Linked DNA regions of Homo sapiens: region 2 is linked to region 1. The links come from fine-mapping of genetic effects on gene expression. A gene starts in region 1. The other region holds a variant in brackets. All regions are shown on one strand. Distances are between the middles of the regions.

Evidence for each region. PIP is the estimated chance that this variant, and not a neighbour inherited with it, causes the effect.
Region 2: its variant is fine-mapped to the expression of CHST11 in whole blood (TOPMed, PIP 0.93).

The regions. Positions count from the first base shown.
Region 1 is chr12:104,453,936-104,458,935 of GRCh38, forward strand. CHST11 (carbohydrate sulfotransferase 11) reads left to right here and starts at 3,013. Exons shown (of 3, transcript NM_018413.6): 1 at 3,013-3,594. The coding sequence starts at 3,477. RefSeq lists enhancers at 2,682-2,731, 2,752-2,831, 3,752-3,801 and silencers at 2,902-3,031, 3,112-3,281, 3,322-3,601, 4,192-4,331, 4,492-4,551.
Region 2 is chr12:104,755,024-104,760,544 of GRCh38, forward strand. CHST11 (carbohydrate sulfotransferase 11) reads left to right here. Exons shown (of 3, transcript NM_018413.6): 3 at 1,926-5,521. The coding sequence ends at 2,780. Among named protein-coding and RNA genes, the nearest start is that of MIR3922, 170 kb to the left of the region's middle. The variant A/G (reference allele first, on the strand shown) is at 2,905.

The sequences.
Region 1 (5,000 bases):
CGGATTGGAAGGGCCACATAAACATCTGTCAGTCCATTGACAACAGCACCCAGAAGCCCGAATTGTGACTTCACACCGATTTCTTCCCCTGCTATAAATTCTACAAGATCGTCAACATAAATAAGACTTTCTCCTCAACCAGTTTTTCAGGGCCATGCCAGGCTTTAAAATGGGCAGGCCCCTGGCCGGGCGCGGTGGCTCACGCCTGTAATCCCAGCACTTTGGGAGGCCGAGGTGGGCGGATCACGAGGTCAGGAGATCGAGACCATCCTGGCTAACATGGTGAAACCCCGTCTCTACTAAAAAATACAAAAAATTAGCCGGGCGTGGTGGCACGTGCCTGTAGTCCCAGCTAGTCGGGAGGCTGAGGCAGGAGAATGGTGTGAACCCGGGAGACGGAGCTTGCAGTGAGCCAAGATCGCGCCACTGCACTCCAGCCTGGGCGACAGAGTGAGACTCCGTCTCAAAAACAAAACAAAACAAAACAAAACAAAAATGCAGGCCCCAGTTTCACTTGCATGTTGTTGAATTTGGAGAGTCAATCAATCAAGCCAGGTCCCACAATGAGCACAATGCCAATCTGCAGAATCTTTCAGGGCAAAAGGGAATTTAGAAAGATGAGGGAGAAAGGATCTGAAGACTGATCCGTTCCTCTTTCAATGTTCAAAGTATAAAATTTTTCTCCTCAGTTTTATCAGTTAATACTGTCCTTTACTTGGCTAATATTTATTATATAGCATAAGATGTAACAAAATTTTCTTAGGCTAGGAATGGAAAGAAAGCAATGATTCTAACTGTAGTTGGGCAGTTTAGAGTGTGATGAAGGAGAAAACAGAATTTTTTCATCACCCCTCAATGTGCATAGAACAACAGAATCACAGACCATTACCACTGACCTTTGTCATAGATTTTAGAGGTGATCTAATCTAACTTCCTAGTCCAAGTAGGCATTACCTCTCTGCCTCTGACTTATTTGTACCTACTATGTACCAGTCATTGTGCTGGGCATTAGAAAGAGACAGAGATGAAGACAACTTGGATCTCCAGGAAGGAGTTCAGCCTAGTGGGTACAGTGGCCCAAAAGAGGTTTGGACCTAGTGCTCACAGCGCAGAGGAGGAAAGTTGCAATTTCAGGTGAGAAAACAGCAAAGACTTCTTGGGAGAGGTGGTAGCTTATGTGTCACAGCCTTAATCCTCACTGTGTTTGGGCAGGTTCCTGATTGTGGGAATGCAAGAATGGATGTTGGGCATGATTCACCATCCTCCCCCACCATGTGGGCCAACTCCATGATCTCTGTGACTCACAGGGAATTGGACTTCTGATCTCTTCCTTGACCCTGTGACTTCCCAAACTGCCTTGTGCATGTCCAGGCTTTGGGGCAGGTAACTGAAGTCTTTGGCCTATGAGGTGAGAGGTCACTTGGGTGACCTGGGAGTAAATCCCTTCCCCTCCCTGGCTCTGTAAAGCCAAGTGTTAAATGAGAGACTTATATTCCAGGCAAAGGCTTTGTGCAAATGCCCATCTAAGCCATGCCCTCTGCAAGGAATCCCCTTTCTTAGTGATGATGGTGGGGAGGTGGGGAGGGTGCAGTGCAACTCCCATTCCTGATCTCCTATCACCAGAGCAGAAGAATCACTGGAGAACGACTCTGTCTGAAGCTTGTTCAGCCTGGCTTCCTTGAGCAAGCAACTTATTCACAGGTAAGTCCAAATTAATACAGCGCACACCGGCTACATAAATATTGTGCTTTGATTGTCTTCTGTAATCAAAGGCAAGGCTGCTGAGTTTGTTACTTTCCCCACCATGCAACTGCTGGAGGAGAACTCTGGGGGAAGGGAACTGAGGTTGCCCAGGTGGTTTTTGTTGCATGTGTCTAACTGCAAGTTGTGTCTCTGTCTATCGAGGGGAGGATAAGGCCCATTACATTCAGATTCAATAAGAATTTATCAAATGCCTATTTTGTGAGAGGCATTGAAAGACACAGTATCTTATTTCATTTTTAATTGAATTAGTAATGACTTGATAAGGCACAAAGGTTAGTCTAACTAACATTTTTTTTTTCCCTGACATACGAGTGATCCCTACACTATTGGCTGTGTCCACTTTATTGATTGTGAAACAGCCTAAATGCATGGAATTGGAAACTGGAAGTCATTCTACACAATACAAGAAAGCAGCACCATCTTTCCATGTACCTGCCAGTGCTATGGCTGGCTTGGCTTTTCCAGCAGTTTTCTGGACTTGGTTGAGGTGGCTTCCTAGGGGCATTTTCTCACCCCCTCCCAGCTAAGACTGCTGTTAATTTTGAATAATTTGGAGGATGCTCTACCCTTTGGGGTAGCAGAGTTTTGCAACCCACAGATCCCTTTTGCCTTGAGGAATGGTGGTGATGGTGGGTGTCAGAGATTCTGTCTGTATAAGTCCCCGGGAAAGCTCAGCTGTCGCCTGACCCGAGGGTCGTGCAGTTTCCTTAACCCTGACTTTAAGTCAGCCCTCTTTAACCCCGACTCCCAAGCTGGGCTGTCCTTTGAAAGAAAAACGAAACCGCCCAGTTCTGAGCGTCGGAAAATGGGCACTCGCTCCCTGGGGGTTTGGGGCAACTTCCCCGCTACGTCGCCCAGGGATTTTAAATAATTGCCAGCCACCAGAAACCCCCTAACCCTTAATTCTTCCCTCCGAGACCCAGCCCGCTGCTTGCCACTTCCCTCTCCAAACGCTGGCGGGGGTGGGTGGCAGCACCGAGGCGATTTTCTTCGTCTTTTTTTCCTCCGGGTTTTGTCATGGAAACGCTGACACAACCTCCAGACGGCGGCCGAGCCCGGCCGGGGACTGAGGGCTTTTGGGACCCTGCGGGAGCGCGGCGCGCACACCGCACTCCCCGGGCAACAGCTGGACGCGACCATATCCCGGGTAGGGGCGGGGGGAGCGCGACGCTCCGCCCCGGCGCTAGGGTCCCTCCCTCCTCCCGGCTCTCCGCAGGCGCCCTCCCCTCGCCGGGGGCCGCGAGTTGCATTTGGTAAAACCCAGCCCCGGAATATATAGATCGTTGGAGCGCAATGAAGTAGCCTTTGGAGAGAAGGGAGAGGGCCCGTCGGACAGCCACAGCGGCCAGCGCAGCGGCAGCGGCGGCGGCACCACCATCACCGCTCGCACCCCAGCCGCCCGGCCCGCGACCAGGCAGCGGCGGCCGCCGGCGGGATCGGAGGAGGCGGCGGAGCGGCGAGGAGGAGGAGCAGGAGCGCGCAGCCAGCGGGTCCACGCATCTCAGCACTTCCAGACCAACTCCGGCACCTTCCACACCCCTGCCCGGGCTGGGGGCTCCGAGAGCGGCCGCGAAGCGACTCCGATCCTCCCTCTGAGCCTTGCTCAGCTCTGCCCCGCGCCTCCCGGGCTCCGGTCCGCGCGGCGGGGTCCCTGCTCCTGCGCCCCGGGCGCGCTTCCCGGACACCCCGGTCCCCGCAGCCAGGACAAAGCCATGAAGCCAGCGCTGCTGGAAGTGATGAGGATGAACAGAATCTGCCGGATGGTGCTGGCCACTTGCTTGGGATCCTTTATCCTGGTCATCTTCTATTTCCAAAGTATGTTGCACCCAGGTAGGGGGCGCGTTAGCGTGGTTTTGTTGGATATTTTCTTCTCTCTCGCGCTCTAGCTCGCTCCGCCTGATTTCTGCCTCTTCCAACCCTACCTCTCCGCCTTCGGCCTCTTCGGGGCTCCTGGCTGCCCAGAGCTCCTGGCTGCCCAGATCTACCCGGGTCACCGCGTCGGGATGGGGAGGAGAAGGGAAGGTGTGCTTCGCCCTCTTCTTCCTACCGGCTCCGGGCTGGAGGATGGGACCAGGAGGGGCGGTAGTTTTTTTTTTTTTTTTTTTCTTCTTCTTTTTTTCTTTGTGTCCCTTGTCTGTCTGTCTGCGAGGTAGCAGGGAAACGGAGAGGTGTGGGAAGCAACCGGGGGTGAGGGGCTGGTTTGAGGAGAACGAAACTCCCTCCCTGCTGCTGCCGAGGTCGGAGGATGAAAGAGTTACCCGGAGCCGGCTGCTCTGCGCCCGGGCGAGCCGCCTCTTCCTGGTTGCCGGGCCGGGGGCGAAGGGTGTACGCCCCGGCGAGGTTGCGAGTCCCTGCAGCAGGCTGGGAGCCCGGGACTGGGCTCCCACGTGTCCCGGGCTCCGCGCAGAGCTGAGCAGGTGTGGAGAGTGGTCGGGTGCCCAGCGTTGCCCCTCCACCACGCGCCGGCCGTTTGCCCCCGGGGTCCGGCTCCGCAGTGACCTTGCGGCTGGTGCCCCGGGGCCTGCTCCAGCCCCCAGCCCTGAGCTGGAAACTCCGAGCTCCTGGGTCACGCCTTGACCACTGCAGTTTTGGAGGAAACTTTGGCCAGGTCCTGGGCTGACCGTCCGTTTGCATCCCCCACTTCTGGGATCCGAGCAACGGGAATCCCCCGGGCGGCGTGGGAATGAACCCCATTCCTCCGGTCCCTTGTGGCTCAGGCAAAGTTCCACGTCCGAAATCTGGACTGGGGGAGGGACGAGGCTCGTCGCTTCCTAGGGGTGCGAGGGAAAGTTTGGGTTCTGGAGAGGGAGGGGCGCCCTCGAGCGCGGCGGCCGGGGGTGAGCAGCTCGGCTGCGAAGCCCAACAGGTAGAACGTTCCGAGAAGCCTTCCGGGTAACGCGGGTCTCCCCGCCAAGCCGTGGCTCCCCTGCTCCCTTTTACCCTCCCTTAGCAGCCCCCTGCCGGGCCACGTTGGCTCAGAAATCCATTTTCTACGCCTCCGAGTTGCCTTTCTCAGCGTAGTCACAGCAATAATTTGCTTTTCTAATTGCAAGGAGGAGGGAGGTGGAAACGCATTTCCTTCCAGGGAAGTGGGGTTGGTGTTTTTCATTTTTGCCTCCCGCCTTCTCCTTTCACTGTGTATCTAACACTTTAAACAGACGCAGTCCCGAATTCATCAAGCCTGCGTTTGGGTCGATGGCAGAGGAATAAAGCTGTTCTTTCCATCAAACAGGCAG
Region 2 (5,521 bases), 300 kb after region 1:
ATGGAGCTTAATGCAGGGTGCAATGGCTTCTCCCTGGTGGCTACCATGATGCCCCTCAGTTCCCCAGCAAACTCATCAGTGGCCCTACTTTAGGCCCATCCCAATGGCCCTGTGCACCTTTTAGTAAAAATTGTGCAGATTGAGGTTCAAAGTTGGAGGAGCAGGGGCAGATACTTGGGTTGCACTCAAGTCCTAGGCTCTACTGACTTGGCTGTCCAGGTGACTGGAGGATTTCACGGATACAGCTGCATTCTCAGGACTCAAAGCCACCCACAGTCTGGCCTGGAGGAGGCGGTGACTCTGGGGCTCCGAGTCCCTGTGAAGTGAGTGGCCACAGGAGTTGAGAAAACCAAGAATGAACTAGACAGGAGGGTTGTGCTATGAAGCACACTCAGTGTTGTGGGTGTTCAGTGGAGGGAATGGTTATTCCACTTGTGTGGCAGGGGAGTGTGTGGGGCCATGAAGAATTGTCAAGTTTGGGGCCAGGCACAGTGGCTCACCCCTGCAGTCTCAGCACTTTGGGAGACTGAGGCTGGCCAATCACCTGAGGTCAGGAGTTTGAGACCAGCCTGACCAACGTAGTGAAACCCCGTCTCTACTAAAAATACAAAAATCAGCAGGGCATGGTGATGCGTGCCTGTAATCCCAGCTACTCGGGGGGCTGAGGCAGGAGAATTGCTTGAACTCTGGAGGCGGAGGTTGCAGTGAGCTGAGATCGCGCCACTGCATTCCAGCCTGGGCAACAGAGTAAGACTCTGGAAAAAAAAAGAAAAGAAAAGAATTGTCAAGTTTATACCAGCAGAGATTGAGAGGGGAGAATCCCAGATGGGCCCAGCCTAAGGAACGCTTGCGGCAAAGAGGAAAGAGTGAATCATTGGTTTCTCGGGACCCCCCCCTCCGGTTATGAAAGGGTGAGGAGTAGGAATCAGGCTGGAAAAGTAGGTTGGCATTGGGCTATGGAGAACCCCAAAAGGCCAGTGTATGAATGGGGGCTTGGTTCCTGGGGCAAGGAGGCAACCAAGACACCACCTCATCTGTAGCTCCAGAGCAACTATTCCATAGCCCTGTGCCCCCAGTTTCTCTGTAACTTTAATCACAATTAATATTATTCCATTTATATAAAAGAAGGACCATACTGAACTTTCATGAGTGGTGGTGGAGGTAAGGCAGGAATCCGACAGTAGGGTGCCACCACTCCGTGAAGGTCTCTGAGCCTCTGGGTGCTGGAGACGCAGGTGGTGGCAGAGCAGGCAGAGTGCCCTCCTGTTTCCTGTTCTGGGTAGACTGTGAGTACTGGTTTGGACTGGGAGTGAATGGCCTTTGGGGAGAAACTTTTGCTCTTAGAATTCAGAGGAACACACACATCTTCCCAAGCATTTCCCTTTGCCCTCTACTGAGGCTGACAGCTCTCTGCCCTGGCACCTCCTAGACTATGAGTGATTTAGGTTATGTCTCTTTGCAGTGCTGAGCAGAGCACTTTATACATCATGAGGTCTGGATCCATGTGGGGTGTGTGTGTGTGTGTGTGTGTGTGTGTGTTTAGAGACAGGGTCTTGCTCTGTCACCCAAGCTAGAGCACAGTGGCACAGTCATACCTCAAGGTAACCTTGAACTCTGGGGCTTAAGTGATTCTCCTGCTTCAGCCTCCCAAGTAGCTGGGATGTCAGGTGTGCGCCACCATGCCTTCCTAATTTTTTAGTTTTTTTAGAGATGAGGTCTCACTATGTTGCCAAGGCTGGTCTTGAACTTGTGGCCTCAAGCGATCCTCCTGCCTCAGCTTCCCAGAGTGCTGGGATTAAAGGCATGAGCCACTGCACCCAGCTTAGATATGTGTTTGAACGGGTGGATTTATGATCTACTTGTAGCCAAGTGGAAATGTTTCAGGCAAGTACTGAGTTCTTATTCGTCTTGTGTCTCCTCTGCAGCTGGAGCTCTCAAACACTGCTGTCCTGCACCAGATGCGGCGGGACCAGGTGACAGACACGTGCCGAGCCAACAGCGCCACAAGCCGTAAGCGGAGGGTGCTGACCCCCAACGACCTGAAGCACTTGGTGGTGGATGAGGACCACGAGCTCATCTACTGCTACGTGCCCAAGGTGGCCTGCACCAACTGGAAGCGGCTCATGATGGTCCTGACCGGGCGGGGGAAGTACAGCGACCCCATGGAGATCCCGGCCAACGAGGCACACGTCTCCGCCAACCTGAAGACCCTGAACCAGTACAGCATCCCAGAAATCAACCACCGCTTGAAAAGCTACATGAAGTTCCTGTTTGTCCGGGAGCCCTTCGAGAGGCTAGTGTCCGCCTACCGCAACAAGTTCACCCAGAAGTACAACATCTCCTTCCACAAGCGGTACGGCACCAAGATCATCAAACGCCAGCGGAAGAACGCCACCCAGGAGGCCCTGCGCAAAGGGGACGATGTCAAATTCGAGGAGTTTGTGGCCTATCTCATCGACCCACACACCCAGCGGGAGGAGCCTTTCAACGAACACTGGCAAACCGTCTACTCACTCTGCCATCCCTGCCACATCCACTATGACCTCGTGGGCAAGTACGAGACACTGGAAGAGGATTCTAATTACGTCCTGCAGCTGGCAGGAGTGGGCAGCTACCTGAAGTTCCCCACCTATGCAAAGTCTACGAGAACTACTGATGAAATGACCACAGAATTCTTCCAGAACATCAGCTCAGAGCACCAAACGCAGCTGTACGAAGTCTACAAACTCGATTTTTTAATGTTCAATTACTCAGTGCCAAGCTACCTGAAATTGGAATAAAGGGGGTGGGGAGAGGGAGAGAATCATGCTTTTTAATTTAAGATTTTTATTTGTCAAAAGAATTATATGGATATTGGGTTATTTTGTAAATTAATATTTCTTTGGGGATGATGCTGCGAGCAGC[A/G]TAGTGAGAATTATTTAAAATCCTTCGTAGGGAAGGACAGCTGTCTTTGCAGGGGAAATAGGATGGGTCGTCCTTGTCTGTAGAAGTGAATACTGCAACACTGTCTCAAAGGTTTCTTGTGTTCTGGTGAATTCCATGAATTGTGCATTCCATAAATTCTAATTAATATTATTTATAGTTATTTAAACATGGTCTCATTATTTCTTTTTGTGGCAGCAAAATTCTAACATCTTTCCAGAAGAAATCTATGATTCCTGCTTTGCTTGCTACAGCTCATTTGGGGGCATGAATGTTCTCCTTACTAACCTCTCATGGAGTCATGTGATAACAGCCATTGTCATGTGTATGGATGCCACCATTCTTGAATTTCTGCTAGAAATAAGTAGGTTGCTATTGCACTTAGAGTCATCTTTGCAAGGGACTCATTCCAAACCAATTCCAATCGACCTGAAAGTCCCTTGCACTAAAGAAATGTGATTTTTTTTTAACCCAAGGAGAAAGTTGGTTGTAACAATTTTTCACCAGAATTAGCAATCTGATAGAATAGGCTTTTTTAACAGGAATTTTAAACTGGCGGTGCCAGTTGCAGTGAAGGTGAAGTGGCTATTGCTTTATATTCGACAAATATTTATTGAGCATCTACTATATACTAGGCCCTGAAGATAGAGCGTTGAACAAACCCAATAGTCTTGGCCCTCAAAAAGCTTTATGTGACATAGAGCATCCAGCTCGACAATTAGCAAACCCCTGATATTATTCATGGACTTGACATGAGGTTTGGACTATTCATGAGCAACAGCAGAAGGTCCATGACCCCTACAAATTTACATTTTTCTATGGCCCATATTTGAAAACCTCACATTCGGAGCAGGCCACTTTATATTCGTGAGTGATCCCAAGCTCACTGACCAACAGAAAAGATGCTAAAAAAATGTGTCCTATCATGTGCCTGCTCCAACTGATGGGTAATGTCTGCCTTTAAGCCCCAGAATGGATTCTCCAGGCACAGTGTGGAAGAGTGCTGTGGTTGATTAGCAATGTCTGCCTTGGGTGAGGAAAGGGGAACACTCCTCAAGTGCCTCCTACTGTCATCTCCATTCAGCCTAGCACCACATCCCCATGTAGAAGTGTTGTCTTCTACTGCTTGCCACGTACAAGTGTGAAATGCCAAGGTGAGACTCGTACACTTGGGGATTTGCAATGGTTTTTACCCCTCATGAAGGTCAGAGGTGGACTATTTGTACACATACACACATGCACACCCTCTCACGTCCTCCAGAGGCTGAAAGACTATCAGCATCTTGGTAACTGCCATGCATGAGCAGCAAGGACAGCCTTCCATAATCCATGCCCCATTTCCTCTGGAAGCCTGGAAACTTTTCATTTCCTGTTCCTTGCTAATTAACATCTAAACATGCTTCTCATTTCCAGCCATTGCTGATGCTTCTCAGTTGAAGTTTGAGCCACATCCCTCTTACAGCTAGTGAATGAGTTGGTAGCAGCTACTGTATATAATAATAATAATAGTTTTAATAATAGGGGAGGGTGGGATGGGGTGTGGGTAAGTTTTGCCTTTTGTTTTGTTTTTGATGCCGTATATAGTGAAGGGGTGAGGATATTCTAAACAAACAAAAATTGAATAATTTATTCACAGAAACTATTAAGATTGTATTGTAAAGCTCACAGCAAGCTCAGTGGGCAGCAGCTGCAACATCTCACCGGGGAAATTATTTTATTTAACGTGAGTGAGATGTGGGCCGGAGAAGGTAGCTGAAGCTATTTATAAAACGTTGTGTACCTTCTTCCGAGCTCTCTCCCCTTTGTGAAGGGCGCAGCAACTATACCCTTGATGGATGGAGATTTACGCAATGTGTTTTACTGGGTAGAGTGACAGACCTTGGCTGTCCCTGGAATTGAGAATCTGGACCTTATTTCCAGGCAGAGAACACTGTCCTCAGAAATGGGACTTCTGATAATGAAACAGGTTGTCCAACATTTTCTAATACGCATTCTACAGAACACAGGTTCCAGGAGGCATCAGGTTGGTGTGATGCAGACTAAGGGTTTTGTGGTCAAATATCCTTAAGAAACAAAGTTAAGTCAGTTTCCTTTCTGCAAGGACTTTTCAGCCTTCAATGTGTGCTGTGCATGGTGAATCCCCAAAAATAATCCTTGAGTCTGTAGCATTTCCTGAACTTACATGACCAGGATACTCTATTTTGCAGATCACCCCACAGAGCTAGGGTTCCACCGAGTATACTTTGCTTAGGTTGACTTAGCATATCTGAGGTCTTCAAGGATAAAAACTGCCACCCCAACACCCTTCCATTAAAAAAAAAATACAAAATAGCACCACAGTCTCCATCTGGTTTATAGCAACAGAGGTACTTTATTTAATGAAGCAATGGTTCTAATCCTGGATACTGCCACGGACTACAATTCTATCCCTCCCAGAGGGAGTGGAGGAAGTCTTGGGTGGTGTGGACAGAAGGAAGAGAGGAGAGGGTGAGTGGGGTATAGGGCCCAGGGTGGCTCCCTACTCCTCAGGCTCAAAAGGATGCTCAGTGGGAACAGATGATCTCTTGATGAGTGCTTCTTCAGTTTCATAGTTTGGAAT